2 linked regions of the Homo sapiens genome follow. The protein of the gene in region 1 interacts with the protein of each later gene in a pairwise test. Each region holds a gene or a part of one and is shown in the gene's direction. Other genes may lie near its edges. The genes, in order: EFNA3 and PRSS23.

The links.
Region 2: the proteins of EFNA3 (region 1) and PRSS23 interact in a two-hybrid assay, tested with the Homo sapiens proteins (one large-scale study listed by BioGRID and IntAct).

Annotation. Positions count from the first base shown.
Region 1 is NC_000001.11:155,077,653-155,081,943, forward strand, and holds the start of EFNA3 (ephrin-A3 precursor), read left to right. Parts: upstream 1-1,184; 5' UTR 1,185-1,289; coding exon 1,290-1,417; intron 1,418-4,291. UniProt on the Homo sapiens protein: Cell surface GPI-bound ligand for Eph receptors, a family of receptor tyrosine kinases which are crucial for migration, repulsion and adhesion during neuronal, vascular and epithelial development.
Region 2 is NC_000011.10:86,806,963-86,810,769, forward strand, and holds part of PRSS23 (serine protease 23 precursor), read left to right. Parts: intron 1-668; 5' UTR 669-681; coding exon 682-1,833; 3' UTR 1,834-3,807.

The DNA of each region.
Region 1 (4,291 bases):
CGCCTGGTCTGGGCCTCTCCAAAAGAGAAGAGATAAGGGACAGATAGCCCTAGGTCTGGTTTCTGAACCCTTTTCCTGAACTTCTACTTCCTAGAAAGAGAGAAGAGGAGAGCAAGGAACTGTGTGTGTCAGGATGCATGTGGGTTTGTGTGTGTGTTGTGTGTGGATGGATATAGGTGTGTGCTTGGGTGTCTCTGTGCCTGATCTCTAGCAGTCTGATAGTACCCTTTCCTATGTGTGTCTGGAAGGTGTACCTGTGTGTCCATATGTCTGTGTCAGGCACCTGTGTCTCTATGTTCTCTGCCTTTGGGTGACTGTGCCTTTTTTCCTGAATGTGTGTGTGTGATGTGTGTGCTTGGGTGTCACTGTGAGGACAATGACTGTGGTGAGAGCTGGAACACAAGGTGCTCTGCCCTCTGACTCAGGATCAGCGTCTCTGAGAGTAGGAGTGAGAATCCCTGGGGACAACCCTGGCTGCCCCGGGAGGGGCCCTGCCTAAGTGCCAGTGAGGAATCCTTTGTAGGTGTCCAGGGAACCCTGCTTTGCCCCAGCTGACTCTCTCCTTGACCCCCTCCTGCGCCTTGGGTTCTGGACCACTGAAGACTCTTACAGCTCCCAGTATTGACATTCTCAGGGGCTGAGCTCTTTTACTCTGCCTCCAAGATAAACAAGCCTCATGCTCAGCTGGGGGCTTCAGGTCACCAGCTGTCAAAGCCTTGGTGCCAGCTGAGGACTTCTCCACCACCCTTCTGTGCCCACCTGAGTCCTCATGCACACGGGAAAAGGGGGCATGGACGCAGCAGAGGGCCACAGTTTTCAGAAGGGAAGGGGTCCAGCCCTACTTACTAAGAGGTCCTGGATCCCCAACTTCTTCTCAAGTCTTCTCCTTCCCCTCATTCCCAGAGATGATTGGGCTTCCCTGAGATCGAGATCCTTATCTTGGGTTCCCAAATCCTTCTGGGAAATTCAGCCTGGGGAGCAAAAGACCCAGGACCAGTTGTAGCAAACTGAACTCAAGAAGGAGAGACGAGGCACGCGCTGGTCTTTCCCGAGGGGGCAGTACGGTCCCCACCTCCCACGCGTCGCGCGCTCCCGACCGGAGCGGGACGGGGCCTGTCGGGGGCGCGCCAGGGGCGGGGCTTCGGGGGCGCGCCCAGGAGGGCGGAGGGAAGGGCTGGGGGCGTGGCCTAAGGCTGGGGGCCGACGGCGGCGGCAGCAGGGAGCTGGGAAGCGGAGAAGCCGGGAGCGCGGGGCTCAGTCGGGGGGCGGCGGCGGCGGCGGCTCCGGGGATGGCGGCGGCTCCGCTGCTGCTGCTGCTGCTGCTCGTGCCCGTGCCGCTGCTGCCGCTGCTGGCCCAAGGGCCCGGAGGGGCGCTGGGAAACCGGCATGCGGTGTACTGGAACAGCTCCAACCAGCAGTGAGTCGGGGACCCTGGGAGTCCGCGCGTCCCGTCTCAGTGAGAGGGGGAGCCGGTGGGCCCGAGAAGTCCTGGGGGATCCCGGGGTGGGAGTCCTGGGAGACCAGAGCTGGGGGCTGGGAGGGGACGGAGAGGGGGACGCACTCTGTGGGCGTCTAGGAAACTCGGGGGTGTCTGAAGAGGCTGTTGGGCTATAGTAAGGAGCGCTCGGGCCGTGTGGAGGAGGCTGCTGGAGGGGCCCCCCACCCCATCTTGGCTTCTCTCCGCACCCGCCGCTGGAATAGCATGCCCCTGTCCCATAGTCCCACCAGTTGGGCTGGGGTTTGGGGGTAGCGCTGTGCTGGGGATAGGCCGCTGCATTTTGGGGCCCAGGGATGACCTGTTTTTGGCCATGAGGGCTTCCAGGGGTTCTGTCTAGGACTCCTGCTTTTAAAAGTGGGGTCCAGAGCTGAGGCAGGGAGTCCGACCGAGCACCTCCCTAGAAGGAAGGCGAATGGGTTGTCTTGGTTGTGTGGATAAGCCCGGCTAGGGTGAGCTAGGGCTGGGTCGCTGAGTTGGGGGGCCCTGGGAATGCTGCTTGGTTAGGATGGGAACGTGGGGTACCGGCGAGACGGAAGGCGGCAGAGAGATGTCGGTGTGTCACACACGCACACACACGCCCGGGCTGGGGACGGCGAATGGCTCCAAGTGTGAGCGGGCGTGCGCGGCTGTCAGTGTGCGTGTGTGTCTGAGTGTGTGATTTGTGTGTCTGCGTCGGCGATCGTCTGGGGGTGGGAGCGGGCTGCGGGTCGGGGAAGGGGCTGCGGTCGCTGTCCGCGCGGCCAGCTGCGTCTGGGCTGGGGTGGCTGTTGGCGCCGCCGCGGTCTGGGCGGGTGTCAGGGCGGCCGTGTGGTTTCCCGGGGTGTGTGGCGCGGTGGCCGGGTGCTGGCTGCGGGGCCGGGTCCTCATTCTGCTCAGTCCTTGCTGCCCTTGTCTTCTCCTCCCCGCCAAGCCGCCGTGTGTATCTCCCTGGCCACATCAGTGTGTGTCTGTGTGTTAGTAGGGGGAGATCCCTGGGGACGCGGGGGTCACTGTCACACCTGCCCGGGCGGTGGCGGCAGCACTGCCTCTGGCTGCCCACCCCAGGGACCGACCGACCAGGGAGCAAATGGCCAGACCCCAGGGGAGGGGACCGGGAGGGCCGGGCGGCCGCGACCCCCAACCTCTCGGAGGAGGGGCTGCCGCTCGCCGCTCCGCTCTTTGTTGTTTGGGGCTCCGCGCCTCCCCCTCTCTCCCTCCTCGCGCCCGGAGTGTCAGACTGGGGGTGGGGATGAGCCAACGACGCCCCCCTCTCGCTTCCCATGGAAACCTCGGGGGTGGGGACGTGGCCCCTCCCCCCCGGAGCGGGACTCCAAGAACTCCGGGGGGCGCTGGGGGCTGACTTTCCAGCTCTATCTAGCTCAGCCCCCTCCCCCAGACTCACACGTCCGCCCCCCACCCCGCTAGAGTCTGGCGGGGAACGGAGAGCTCGCAGGTGAGGGGCCCCGGGTTCCCCGCCACCCTTGGAGCACCTCAGCGTTCTTAGGGGAAGCCAGAGCCGGGGAGGATGCGGGAATAGGTTTGGTGGGGGGAGGTGTTGATCAGGTTCCCCTCCCCCGCATACACCTGGGCGCAGGTGAAAGCTCAGGGAGCGGGTGGGGGAGCCCGGGTTCCGGGAGCCTCCTTTCTGTCCTCTCTACTCCGTGCGGGCCTGGGCCGGCAGAGGTAGGAGGGGGCGCACACCGGGCCAGGAGGCTGCCGCCGCCCCCGCCTCGCTTCCCGGGCCTTTGTTGCCGCTGCGCCCGGGCTCCCCGGCTCCCTCACTGCGGCAGCCGCGGCCCCATAAATCGTGAGAGCGACGTGCTCCGGAGCCGAGAATGGAGAGGGCCGGGGAGCTGGGGGCGGGGCCGACCGAGCCACAGGCTCCCGCGCCCCCTCCCCCTAGTCACGTGAGCTGGGCTCCTGGCTCCCACCTCCCGTCACGTGCGGAGGGTCTCTGCCCCTTGGGGTCACGTGGGGAGGGTCTTGCGACCCCGCCTCCTGGGGGGGTCACGTGCGTCGGCCTCCTTTGACAGACCTGGGGACTGTGCCTTGCACACCGGCCGCGACCTAGCCCTCTGCCCCCCACTCAGTACTTCCATTTAGTCCCGTGGAACAGGAGAGACCTGTTCCCAATCTGGCCCAGAAACTAGGGATGGGGGGACTGTATTGGAGCGATGCATTAGAGTATGAGGTCGAGGAGTCCCCTAAGCCGGGAATCGAACTTGGTGAGGGGGGTTGGGACGGCCGATGGCCAAATATATGCCCCCTGGCCTGTGTTTCATTTCTTTGCAGAACTGAGCAAGGATGTTGGTATTTGCTCCGTTCTCAAGGAGCTTCGGGAACATCTTTCTATATAGCTGTCTCTCGACCTATCTCTGAAATGCTTCTGTTGCTGATCTCTCTTTCATTCATGCATTCATTCAACAAATATTTATTGAGGCTCTACTACGTCCCTGATGGTCTTTCTCTGTGTTTTCTCCCAGTCTCTGAGTCTCAGCCTTGCACCCTTCCCTGTCCCTGCTTCTCTCCTTTGCGTCTCTGTCTCCGTCTCCGCCGTCTGTGGGCCTCTCTGGCCTGCCTGTCTCTCCTGTTCTCCAAGACTCTCGGTTCTCGTTCTCTTCCCTGCCTCTCTCGGTTTCTGCGTCTCTCTCGCACTGTGTCTCCCTTCCTTTCCCCTTTCAGTGAATCCGGCCTCTGCCACCCTCCCCTTGTCGGTGTGTGTCTCCCCCTCACTCCGTCTCTGTGTCTCGCTTTCGGCAGGTCTCTCGCTCCTCTCCGCCGCTGCAGATCAATAAACCTTCGCCGCCGCCGCCG
Region 2 (3,807 bases), on another chromosome or scaffold:
TCTGGAACTCAATATATATAATAGTAAAGGTTGTTGTAAATTCAAAGCAAAAAACAAAACAAAACAAAAAATCTCATACCCTTTCTCGAGTGCACCATCATTTAAAAACCACAGGAGTGGTGGTAATTGTGACACTGTGGAGCTGTCCTTCTTTGATGTCTCAGTCACTCAGTAAGCCATGTAATTTAAATTGACCCTCTGAGTGACCAAGTTGCTCTGAAAATTTTCCAAGTACATGTTACAATGAGAATGAGAGAAGGAGGAGGGAAAGGCGGGGACATCATGAAGGTAGAAGAGGAGGAGGTTTAGAATCAAGCACAAAGAGGGCTCAAAATTACGTGGAAATTGGGGCTGGTCAGTCAGTTAGCCAGGGGACTAATGACTTTATGCCTGCTACTCTGCAGTCTACCATCATTAGGGACATCTTAAACATAGAAAGGAAGGAACACCCAATTTCACTTCAGGCACCCAGCCACAGGAACTTTCCTAAGGTTGAGCCTTTGCGTTGAAAGTGAGACCGTTATCTAAGGATTCCTCTCCACACCCTGATTCCTGAGGAGTGTTCAAAGACTCAGAAACAATGACAGGCCTGCTGCTGAGCTTTGCTGTCTGCAGTAAATGAACGTTCAGCCCTTGCCCTCCTGACCTGCTTGTCTTTGTTTCTACAGAACAGTGCTCGGCATGGCAGGGATTCCAGGGCTCCTCTTCCTTCTCTTCTTTCTGCTCTGTGCTGTTGGGCAAGTGAGCCCTTACAGTGCCCCCTGGAAACCCACTTGGCCTGCATACCGCCTCCCTGTCGTCTTGCCCCAGTCTACCCTCAATTTAGCCAAGCCAGACTTTGGAGCCGAAGCCAAATTAGAAGTATCTTCTTCATGTGGACCCCAGTGTCATAAGGGAACTCCACTGCCCACTTACGAAGAGGCCAAGCAATATCTGTCTTATGAAACGCTCTATGCCAATGGCAGCCGCACAGAGACGCAGGTGGGCATCTACATCCTCAGCAGTAGTGGAGATGGGGCCCAACACCGAGACTCAGGGTCTTCAGGAAAGTCTCGAAGGAAGCGGCAGATTTATGGCTATGACAGCAGGTTCAGCATTTTTGGGAAGGACTTCCTGCTCAACTACCCTTTCTCAACATCAGTGAAGTTATCCACGGGCTGCACCGGCACCCTGGTGGCAGAGAAGCATGTCCTCACAGCTGCCCACTGCATACACGATGGAAAAACCTATGTGAAAGGAACCCAGAAGCTTCGAGTGGGCTTCCTAAAGCCCAAGTTTAAAGATGGTGGTCGAGGGGCCAACGACTCCACTTCAGCCATGCCCGAGCAGATGAAATTTCAGTGGATCCGGGTGAAACGCACCCATGTGCCCAAGGGTTGGATCAAGGGCAATGCCAATGACATCGGCATGGATTATGATTATGCCCTCCTGGAACTCAAAAAGCCCCACAAGAGAAAATTTATGAAGATTGGGGTGAGCCCTCCTGCTAAGCAGCTGCCAGGGGGCAGAATTCACTTCTCTGGTTATGACAATGACCGACCAGGCAATTTGGTGTATCGCTTCTGTGACGTCAAAGACGAGACCTATGACTTGCTCTACCAGCAATGCGATGCCCAGCCAGGGGCCAGCGGGTCTGGGGTCTATGTGAGGATGTGGAAGAGACAGCAGCAGAAGTGGGAGCGAAAAATTATTGGCATTTTTTCAGGGCACCAGTGGGTGGACATGAATGGTTCCCCACAGGATTTCAACGTGGCTGTCAGAATCACTCCTCTCAAATATGCCCAGATTTGCTATTGGATTAAAGGAAACTACCTGGATTGTAGGGAGGGGTGACACAGTGTTCCCTCCTGGCAGCAATTAAGGGTCTTCATGTTCTTATTTTAGGAGAGGCCAAATTGTTTTTTGTCATTGGCGTGCACACGTGTGTGTGTGTGTGTGTGTGTGTGTAAGGTGTCTTATAATCTTTTACCTATTTCTTACAATTGCAAGATGACTGGCTTTACTATTTGAAAACTGGTTTGTGTATCATATCATATATCATTTAAGCAGTTTGAAGGCATACTTTTGCATAGAAATAAAAAAAATACTGATTTGGGGCAATGAGGAATATTTGACAATTAAGTTAATCTTCACGTTTTTGCAAACTTTGATTTTTATTTCATCTGAACTTGTTTCAAAGATTTATATTAAATATTTGGCATACAAGAGATATGAATTCTTATATGTGTGCATGTGTGTTTTCTTCTGAGATTCATCTTGGTGGTGGGTTTTTTTGTTTTTTTAATTCAGTGCCTGATCTTTAATGCTTCCATAAGGCAGTGTTCCCATTTAGGAACTTTGACAGCATTTGTTAGGCAGAATATTTTGGATTTGGAGGCATTTGCATGGTAGTCTTTGAACAGTAAAATGATGTGTTGACTATACTGATACACATATTAAACTATACCTTATAGTAAACCAGTATCCCAAGCTGCTTTTAGTTCCAAAAATAGTTTCTTTTCCAAAGGTTGTTGCTCTACTTTGTAGGAAGTCTTTGCATATGGCCCTCCCAACTTTAAAGTCATACCAGAGTGGCCAAGAGTGTTTATCCCAACCCTTCCATTTAACAGGATTTCACTCACATTTCTGGAACTAGCTATTTTTCAGAAGACAATAATCAGGGCTTAATTAGAACAGGCTGTATTTCCTCCCAGCAAACAGTTGTGGCCACACTAAAAACAATCATAGCATTTTACCCCTGGATTATAGCACATCTCATGTTTTATCATTTGGATGGAGTAATTTAAAATGAATTAAATTCCAGAGAACAATGGAAGCATTGCCTGGCAGATGTCACAACAGAATAACCACTTGTTTGGAGCCTGGCACAGTCCTCCAGCCTGATCAAAAATTATTCTGCATAGTTTTCAGTGTGCTTTCTGGGAGCTATGTACTTCTTCAATTTGGAAACTTTTCTCTCTCATTTATAGTGAAAATACTTGGAAGTTACTTTAAGAAAACCAGTGTGGCCTTTTTCCCTCTAGCTTTAAAAGGGCCGCTTTTGCTGGAATGCTCTAGGTTATAGATAAACAATTAGGTATAATAGCAAAAATGAAAATTGGAAGAATGCAAAATGGATCAGAATCATGCCTTCCAATAAAGGCCTTTACACATGTTTTATCAATATGATTATCAAATCACAGCATATACAGAAAAGACTTGGACTTATTGTATGTTTTTATTTTATGGCTCTCGGCCTAAGCACTTCTTTCTAAATGTATCGGAGAAAAAATCAAATGGACTACAAGCACGTGTTTGCTGTGCTTGCACCCCAGGTAAACCTGCATTGTAGCAATTTGTAAGGATATTCAGATGGAGCACTGTCACTTAGACATTCTCTGGGGGATTTTCTGCTTGTCTTTCTTGAGCTTTTTGGAAGGATAATTCTGATAAGGCACTCAAGAAACGTACAACCACAGTGCTTTCTTCAAATCATATGAGAAATACTATGCATAGCAAGGAGATGCAGAGCCGCCAGGAAAATTCTGAGTTCCAGCACAATTTTCTTTGGAATCTAACAGGAATCTAGCCTGAGGAAGAAGGGAGGTCTCCATTTCTATGTCTGGTATTTGGGGGTTTTGTTTGTTTTTGCTTTAGCTTGGTGAAAAAAAGTTCACTGAACACCAAGACCAGAATGGATTTTTTTAAAAAAATAGATGTTCCTTTTGTGAAGCACCTTGATTCCTTGATTTTGATTTTTTGCAAAGTTAGACAATGGCACAAAGTCAAAATGAAATCAATGTTTAGTTCACAAGTAGATGTAATTTA